Linked DNA regions of Homo sapiens: region 2 is linked to region 1. Evidence: fine-mapped expression QTL. A gene starts in region 1. The other region holds a variant in brackets. All regions are shown on one strand. Distances are from middle to middle.

Region 1 (4,384 bases):
TATACCACACCCACATCATTAAATTTAAATATGTTGCATGTTTCAAACAGAAACATTTCCCACTCTCTTTCACCTTAGACATGTCATGTACACTGATGTTGTGCAAGCCAGACTTACAAGCCAACTACCACCCAGTGGAGAAAAAGAAGATCTTTCAGGGAAATGTGAGGTGGGGTGGCAGGGGGAGAAGGGAGGGTGATGGGAAAGAAATGAAGGAATAGGGCGTTTAGCTTTGTTTAGATCTAAGCTTTGCTGATCATCCATTTATATTTTCATAGGAAATAAAATATTCCCAGACTCCCACTCTGCAGTGTTGCTTAGGGGTAAAATCAGGGTATGGATGTTTATTAATGACAAACCACCTCAGAGCTCAAGCTCAGAGGAAAGAAGGGAAAATGAGAAAAATAAGTAAAAGTGAAGACTGATGGAGGGAGGAAGGTAGGAATAAAAAGGGGATAGAAAGACACAGAAAGAGAAAAAGAGAGAAGCAGAGACAGAGTGAGAGCAGCGAGTGAGACAGGCAGTGTGTACACATGTGTGAGTGACAATGTGGAACAGAGAAGGAGAGTATGCCTTTTAAAAACAGTGAGAGACAATCTGAATGTGGAAGTGGTTCTTACAGCATGGAAGTGCCAGTGCATGTGAGGATGTGAGAGTATGTGAGTTAGTATGTTTATGGAAATAAGATTTATGAGGGTGAGTAAATGGTACTGGAGGGGAACAGTGACCATGCCTGTGTGTGCCACAGGGGTGGGAAACGGTATGGGGAGAGGGATGAGAAATGGGAGTCAAAAGAGGGAAGACAGGGCACAGGATAGGGACATTAAGGAGGAATAAAAAAAATAGACAAAAAGAAAAAAGGGTAAAAGAGAGGAGGAAAGGGGATTAAATGTGAGGAACAGAAATTAGAGTCGTGGAGATAAAAATGAGAAAATATGAGAAGAAATTTTAAAAAGGAGGGAAAAAACAGAAAATAGAAAAGGTATGAAAAGAGATATTGGAGGGAAAAAGAGTTACAAGGAGGTGGGGAAAATGGTATAAGAGAATGAGGAAGGAGAAAAGAAAGAAAACAGAAAGCGGTAAAAGGAAAGAAAGATAAAGAGCAAGAAATCGAGCCTAAGTGTCCAAGTGAGAGGGAAAATAAATGGGAGCAGAGAACAGCAGTTTGAAAGAGTCGCTTATGCTGGAGTAAAATAGAAACAAACCTGATAAACTTGTCAGACTCTCCAGGAGTACCCCATGACAGTAAAACAGAGACCTTGTGCATTGAGTTTCAAAGTGGCACCTGCCCCTCCTTCTAAACCTGACAGTTCACTCATCCCCAGGCTACTTGGCGTTCCGGCAAAGTGCTTTAGCATCACGAGTCCAGCTTGCTACCTGCCCCAGCATAAACGGGCCGGGGCTCCGGGAAGAATCTGCACCTGGAATTCTTGGGATGTGGTCTTTCCATGATGAGCACCACCAGCATTATTGCTTGTGTTATAAAGAAGGCAAAGAGGGTTCAAAGAGAGACAGAAAGATAGACCGAAACAAGTACGAAAAGCACGCCGTTCTTCCTACCTAAGCACCGCCGTGTCCCCTTTTCTGACCATCATGTTGTCCACGGCCGCCCAGGGGAAGTCCACACTCTGTCCAGCCGGGAGGCAGGAGGGTAGCAGGCAGCACAGGCTGAGGAGCACCGCCGCCAGCCACTGGTTCGAGCAACAAGCACCCTGCACCAACAGCATCATGTCCATCCCTGCTAGGGCTGCTCACTCTCCAGCAGCTTTCAGCTCGCACTCCCCCACCCCCTGGTGCTGGCGAGTCTTCCCGGGAACCAGGCGGCGCGCCACAGGATTTTTTTTTTTTTTTTTTTTTTTTTTTTTTTTTGGTGGGTGGGTGGGTTTCTTTTCTTTCTTTCTTCCCCCCACCCCAGTTGTTGGGTGTTGTTTCTCTCTTTTTGTTTTTCGGTGTTTTTGCCTCCCCTCCTCCTCTTCGCTTTCCCTCCCTCCCTCCCCTCCCTCCCCCTGGCACCACACTACACCTCCTCTCGGTTGCTTTTGGCCGCGTCCGGAGTGTGTCTAATTCTCGGGCGGCTCGCACACCATCTAGCGAGGAGGCGAGCGCGCCGGCGAGTGAGGGAGGAGGCGCGGCGGCGGGGGAGGAGGCAGGGCGAGCGGCGGCGGCGGCGGCTGCAATCCCAGCAGCAGCAGCAGCAACAGCAACAGCAGCAGCAGAAGCAGCGCGGAGCGCTGCGCCGGCCGCCGGCTCCCGGGCTCGCGCGCGTTGCCAAGCGGCCGTTTCCTTAGCAACCCCGCCAGGGGACTGGGGATGGAGAAGGGAGGGGGATTAAAAAAATAATAAAAAAAGAAAGAAAAAAGATAGCAAGAAAAAAAAAAGAAAAGCAAGACAACGAAAAAAAAAATAGGAGGAACTGTATCACAATTATGCAAACTAAGGGGGAAAGAGAGGCACCTTAGAATGAAGGCTCTCCTTACTGTCGTAAGCGCTAGAGGGATTCTTTGCTAGAAAAGTCTCCGTGTCAGGGCTGGGGTGAAGAGAGCTGAGGGGCGCTTTGCCTTCCCTCACCGGTGCGTTTTACCTCTCGAGGCACCGTAAGTTTGAAGTCCTCCAAGTTGTGGTCGGCGCCATCATGACGCCGGCGACTGTGAGTTGTTTTTTTGTTTATTTTCTTCTAATCTTGCCTGGGTGGCTACGCTGCAGTTAGCGAGCAGCCAACTAGTTCTCTCTGCGTTTTCTCGGGAATAGGTAGGGACGGTGGCGGGGCGCTGCTTTTTTGCGGGGACACGAGGAGGTGCAAGGCCTTGCGGCAGAGCAGCTTGCGTGTTTGTGGCGGTCGGCCCGTATGGATTGCAGGACGCCCCTCTTTTATCTGTGGGTGTTGACACTAAGTTGTGTGTGTGAGTAGGGGATTGTTTATGGTCAACATGGAGTGTGTGTGTGATAGAGAGCGTGTCGTGCGCGCGGGGGCCTGTGCACGCGCGGCACGCAGGCGCGCTGGGAGGGACGGGGCGGGTCATGCTGGGATGTAGAGTCGGGAAAAGACTGCAATCAAGTGTTTTAATTGTGTAGAGCCCAGGCGGTCCAGTTATGTAAGAGGCAGTTTAACCCATTTGAGCCTATCAGGCCGAATAATCGGCGCATCCGAGTCAAGGCAGGGCAGAGTTAAGGGGTTTAACGAGTCGCAGGGTTGTATTTCTTAACAGCCTCCACACCGCGTTAACAGGCTTGCTCCTCCGCGGTGCAGAGCGGTAACCTCCGCTTCCCCACGCAGCAGCCCCTCCGCAGCTCGCCGGGCTGTTTTCAGCCCTGCCCTGGCCCAAGGCAGAAGGAGATACTAGGCGTGGGGCCACCCCTACTCTTTTTTCTTCTTTCCTTCTTGAACTCATTTCCAGATTCAAGATCCTTAAGCTTTTCCGGGCCATTTGCAAATCAATGCGAGAACCGAGGCTGAGTCGTTAGCAGTTACACCAATCAATCTTGTTCAGCGAGGAGTTTGGGAAGCAGAGCGGGGAAGTGAAAATGGAAAATAAGTAATTAAAAAATAAGCTCCCTCCCCCTCACACACTTTTTCCCTTCCTCCACCCCATCCCCCTTTAGCAGTGTTTGAAGAAGATATTCTTTGCCAGATCCCAGTTCTTCTTTTGGAGGAAATGAAGCAAAACCTCACACGTCCGTAACTCGTTTTCCATAATGCTAGCAGGGTCATTTGGCAAAGCGCACCGAAGCAAGACTCTCTGCAGGGGTCAGCATCCGGCTGCCTCCGCAGACTGAGCTCTTTACGAGGCAGGCAGGGAGTCGTTTTGCTTGGTGGTAGCAGTGTTCAGAGTGATTTTTATCGCCATGCACGGGGATATATGGGGAAAGGGAAGGGTTCCCATCACCTGTGACCACCCAGACTGGCTTACAGACGAATCCTTAACTAGCAACACCTCCCTGCTGAACTGGCACTCCAAGGCTGGGCAGCTAACGGAGACATTTGCGTCAGGAGTCACTGATGTTAGTATTCTGCCTTAACTCTCAAAACCGACTCGGAAACTGAGAGTGCAATAGTTTCAACCGCATTTTGAAACATCAATAAAATGTTAGTCATTTGCGGATGAATGAAAACATTTTCTTTACCGTCTGGTATGCTAGGGAAATAATTGTGAAATGACAGACTCTCACTAATATCGATGCCAAATACCTAAGTAACACTGTCATCTTGTTAACTGCATTTTTCTATCTTGCGTGGCACGCTGATGGATAAAGCGTAAAATTATCTAGGGCAAACGGGGGATTAGAAGACTTGACATGTCACATACATGGGCAAAGCTATGCAGTATTATTTAGCATTTCAGTAGAAACGAGCTAGATTCTATTGAAGAGACACAGAAGGTATAGC
Region 2 (4,384 bases), 88 kb after region 1:
ATAATGATATTCTTTGTTTTTTTTGATCTTTGTTGGTTTAAAGTCTGTTTTGTCTGAAATTAGGATAGCAACTCCTGCATTTTTCTCTTATTCATTTGCTTGGTAGATTTTTCTCCATCTCTTTACTTTGAGCTTGAAGTTGTCATTACATGTAAGATGGGTCTTTTTTATGCAGCATACAGTTGGGTCTTCCTTCTTTATCCAACTTGCCATACTGTGCCTTTAAATTGGAGCATGTAGCCTGTTTACATTCAAGGTTAATATTGATTTGTGTAGATTTGATCCTGTCAACATGTTGTTAGCTGGTTATTATGCAGATTTGATTTTGTGGTTTCTTTATACTGTCAATGGCTTATGTACTTAAGTCTGTTTTTGTGGTGGCCAGTAATGCTCTTTCCTTTCCATATTTAGCACTCCCTTAAGGACCTCTTGGGTGGTATTAACAAATTCCCTTAGCATTTGCTTATCTGAAAAGGATCTTATTTCTCCTTCATTTATGAAGCGTGGTTTGGCTAGATATGATATTCTTGGTTGGAATTTCTTTGCTTTAAGAATGCTGAATATAGGTCCTCAATTTCTTCTGTTTATAAAGTTTCTCCTGAAAGATCCACTGTTACCCTGTTGAGGTTCCCTTTGTAGGTGACCTGCCTCTTCTCTCTAGCTGCCTTTTTTCTTTCACTTACACTTTTACTTTCATTTCAACCTAGAAGAATCTGATAACTGTGTGTCTTGGGGATGGTTATCTTGTATAGTATCTTGCAGGGGTTCCCTGCATTTCCTAAATTTGAATGTTTGCCTCTATAGTGAGGTTGGGGAAATTTTCATGGATGGTAACCTCAAATATGTCCTCCAACTTGCTTGCTTTCTCTCTTCTTTCAGGGATGTCAGTAAATCACAGATTTGATCTCTTTATGTAATCTCATATTTCTCAGAGTTTTTTCATTCTTCTTTATTGTTTTTTTCTTTATTTTTGTCTGAGTTAGTTTGGAGAACTGGTCTTCAAGCTTTGAGATTCTTTCCTCAGTTTGGTCGATTCAACTGGTAATAATTCTGATTGTATTAGGAAATTCTTGAAGTGAGTTTCTCACCTCTATTGGATCAGTTTGGTACTTTCTTAAAATGGCCATTTTGTTTCTTATCTCCTATATCATTTCATTGTATTCCTTAGATTCCTTGGGTTGGATTTTGAGTTTCTCTTGATGGTTGATGATCTTCATTCTTATTCATAGTCTGAATTCTATTTCTGACATTTCAGCCATTTTAGCCTAGTTTAGAACCATTGCTAGAGAACTAATATGATCTTCCAGAGGTCAGAAGACACTCTGGCTTTTTGAGTTGCCAGAGTTCTTGTGCTCGTTCTTTCTTTTCTGTATGGGCTGATGTTCCTTCAGTCTTTCAAATTGCTGTTTTTGAATAGGTGTTTTTTGTTTGTTTGTTTGTTTGTTTGTTTGTTTGTTTTTGCTTTTATCTTCTTAGATGCCCTTGTGGGCTTGATTGTGGTTTAAGGTAGGTTCAGTTGACTGGCTTGAATTCTATTCTGCTTCTGGGTCTTGAAGGAGTCCCTCTTTGGTTGGGTGTTCTGGTGCATGGGGCTCCTTCATGCAGGGACCACAGTTGGCAACCAGGCTGTATTCTTACTGTGTCAGCCCAAATCTGCTCTCCCAGTGCTTCCCAGGAGAAAACAGAGTTGTGCCTGCTCACAGAGTTCCAGCAGAAGTGAGACCACTGAGTTTGAAGATCTAGCATGTGTGGACCATTTGGCTACAGGTGGCAAGGATAGCTAGAGTAGCCCACCCTGCCATCTATGTGTTTCCAGGGCAAGAGGAGGCTATACCTGTATTGGTTAATATTGAGTGTCAACTTGATTGGATATTGTTCCTGAGTATGTATATGAAAGTGTTGCCAAAGGAAATGAACATTTGAGTCAGTAGATGGGGAAAGGCAGACCCACCCTCAATCTGGATGGGCACCATCTAATCAGCTGCCAGCGTGGCTAGGATAAAAGCAGGCAGAGGAATGTGGAAAGACTAGACTGTTTGAGTCTTCCGGCCTCCACATTTCTCCCTGGCTGGATGCTTTCTGCCCTTAAACATCAGACTCCAAGTACTTCAGCTTTTGGACTCTTGGACTTATACCAGTGATTCACCAGGGACTTTCAGGCCTTTGGCTGCAGAGTGAAGGCTACACTATCCGCTTTTCTACTTTTGAGGTTTTGGGACTTGGACTGGCTTCCTGGCTCCTCAGCTTGCAGATGGCCTGTTGTGGGACTTCACCTTGTGACTGTGTGAATCAATTCTCCTAATAAACTCCCCTTCATATATTCATCTATCCTAGTAGTTCTGTCCCTTTAGAGAACCCTGACTAATACAGCACCCTTTGCAAATTCAGGCAAAATTGGCTCATTTGGCTGGAAGCTACCAGTGGTGGGGTTAGGTTGAGTTGTCTGCTCTGCCATCTGGATGCTTCCCAGAATGACAAGAAGCTCAATGGTTACTAGTGGTGGGGGTGGGTGGGGTTGCCCATCCTGCTGTTTGGGTACTTTCCTTCCCCAGACAGCAGGGGGCTGTGGCCACTGGCTGAGTTCAGAGAGAAGTTGTCCTGCTAGACCAGAAGCCACATTGAGCCTTTTCCAGGGAGGGGAAAATCTTACTGCCCCCAGGCACTGCAACTGCAGAC[T/C]CTGTTGGGGGTATGGTGCTGGTGTTGGTCTGCTCCAGGGGCCAAGACTTATAGAAGTCACCTTGGACTTGAGGGGATTTGCCTCTGCAAAATGTTTGAGGGGCTCTCTGCCTCATTCTAGAAGTGAGGTTGGAGGTATGGGAGGGCCAGGGGTATTCACCCATTTCCAGTCTTGCACAGGTACCTGTTTAGAGTATGAATCACCCAGGGGGCTGTGAGTCACTTACCCTTTCCCAGGTTGGAGACATACTCCTGGCACTGCGCTGATCACAGTCAGGCTGGTGCCCAGCTTCACTCCTCTGTGCTCTCAGTGTCTCCCTCCTGCTTTGATTTATCCTGACCTTGTTTCTCAGATGATTGTCATTCACAGTCAGTGTTCACTAGCCTTTTTGTTTCCTCTCCCTGAGAGCAGCACACATGAGCTTTCTTCTAGTCTGCCGTCTTGACCCAACCCCCGCATTCAGTGATATTGAAGTAGGAAGGGACAGGCCTTTCGGTGTCCTCAATAACTATTCTGACTATCTCTTTCACTTTGTTTTTGAGCATTCTGTGTGAAAAGGCTCTCTTTCTTTTACTTCCCAGGTACTATCTTACCTAGTTTTACAAAGATGAAAATTAAACCTTACAATTATACATCTATAGATAGAATCTTTGTCTCTCATTGCAAACTATTTTTACCATTTTTTTACTTCAGTCTGAGTTGGGAACATGAATTGTCCCTTGGAATAAAAGTGAGAGAGCTGAAGAGAAAGAATGTATACAAAAAACACATTAATACTTTGAGATATAATCCTGCCACAGGGTTATGTTTTCCTTCCAACAAAAGAGCAATCCATGGCAATCTCCTTAAATCCTTCTTTTTCCTCTTCTTTAGTTTTAAAAGGTCAGAATGCAGCTGGGCACGGTGGCTTACGCCTGTAATCCCAGCATTTTGGGAGGCTGAAATGGGTGGATCACCTGAGGTCAGGAGTCTGAGACCAGCCTGGCCAACATGGTGAAACCCCGTCTCTACTAAAAAGATACAAAAAATTAGCCAGGTGTAGTGGTGTGCTTGCAGTCCCAGCTACTGAGGAGGCTGAGACAGGAGAATCGCTTGAACCCGGCAGGTGGAGGTTGTGGTGAGCTGAGATCATGCCACTGCACTCTGGCATAGGTGGAATCTAAAACGTATACTACCAATTTGGACCTTTTATCTGAATTTCAGATCTATATTAAAACATCTTCCATATCTCCATTTGAATGTGCAAAGGAAATATCTTATATGAACTGAATTCCTGATTCCTCATATCTAGCAACCACCATGACAACCAAATTTGCTCAAAGTTGTTTCTTTTGCATGATTATAAATTTTAGTAAACAAAAACTCTGTTTCTTCCAATTGTCAGGCCAAATCTCTAGTCTCAAAGACATTTTTGGCCTGTACATTTATTTATCCATCACATACACACATTCTAATTGATTTGTTTATAGATAAGGTAATAGAATAAGAATCTATTTTTAAATTATCATGACTTAGTAAAAACTCTGGTTTGCTAACTTATGTCTGAGTTATTTAGTGTATGTATGTTTGAACATGTGTTTGTATAAAAGTGTCCATTGATGAAAACATTTTTCAAACTTTGTTGTTCAGAATTTTTCTGAAGTTGCTAACTTAAGTGAAAAGAAATATACTATTCCTTTCACTTCTAGGCCAAATTTGGTGAATTAG

Alleles and levels. Alleles are on the strand shown, and positions count from the first base shown. SD is a standard deviation of normalised expression in the study named.
As copies of T replace C in region 2, the expression in nucleus accumbens of the gene that starts at base 1,781 in region 1 goes down (small effect, 0.20 SD a copy in GTEx).

The links. PIP is the estimated chance that this variant, and not a neighbour inherited with it, causes the effect. A credible set is the group of variants that fine-mapping cannot tell apart.
Region 2: its variant is the best candidate, but not a certain one, in a credible set for the expression of NEGR1 in nucleus accumbens (GTEx, PIP 0.90).

The regions. Positions count from the first base shown.
Region 1 is chr1:72,280,759-72,285,142 of GRCh38, forward strand. It overlaps NEGR1 (neuronal growth regulator 1), which reads right to left and starts at 1,781. Exons shown (of 7, transcript NM_173808.3): 1 at 1,561-1,781. The coding sequence starts at 1,736. It overlaps LOC105378797 (a long non-coding RNA gene), which reads left to right and starts at 2,176. Exons shown (of 6, transcript XR_947506.3): 1 at 2,176-2,647. RefSeq lists silencers at 1,968-2,027, 2,128-2,217 and an enhancer at 3,599-4,384.
Region 2 is chr1:72,368,880-72,373,263 of GRCh38, forward strand. All of the region lies in intron 1 of LOC105378797 (a long non-coding RNA gene), which reads left to right. Among named protein-coding and RNA genes, the nearest start is that of NEGR1, 89 kb to the left of the region's middle. The variant T/C (reference allele first, on the strand shown) is at 2,677.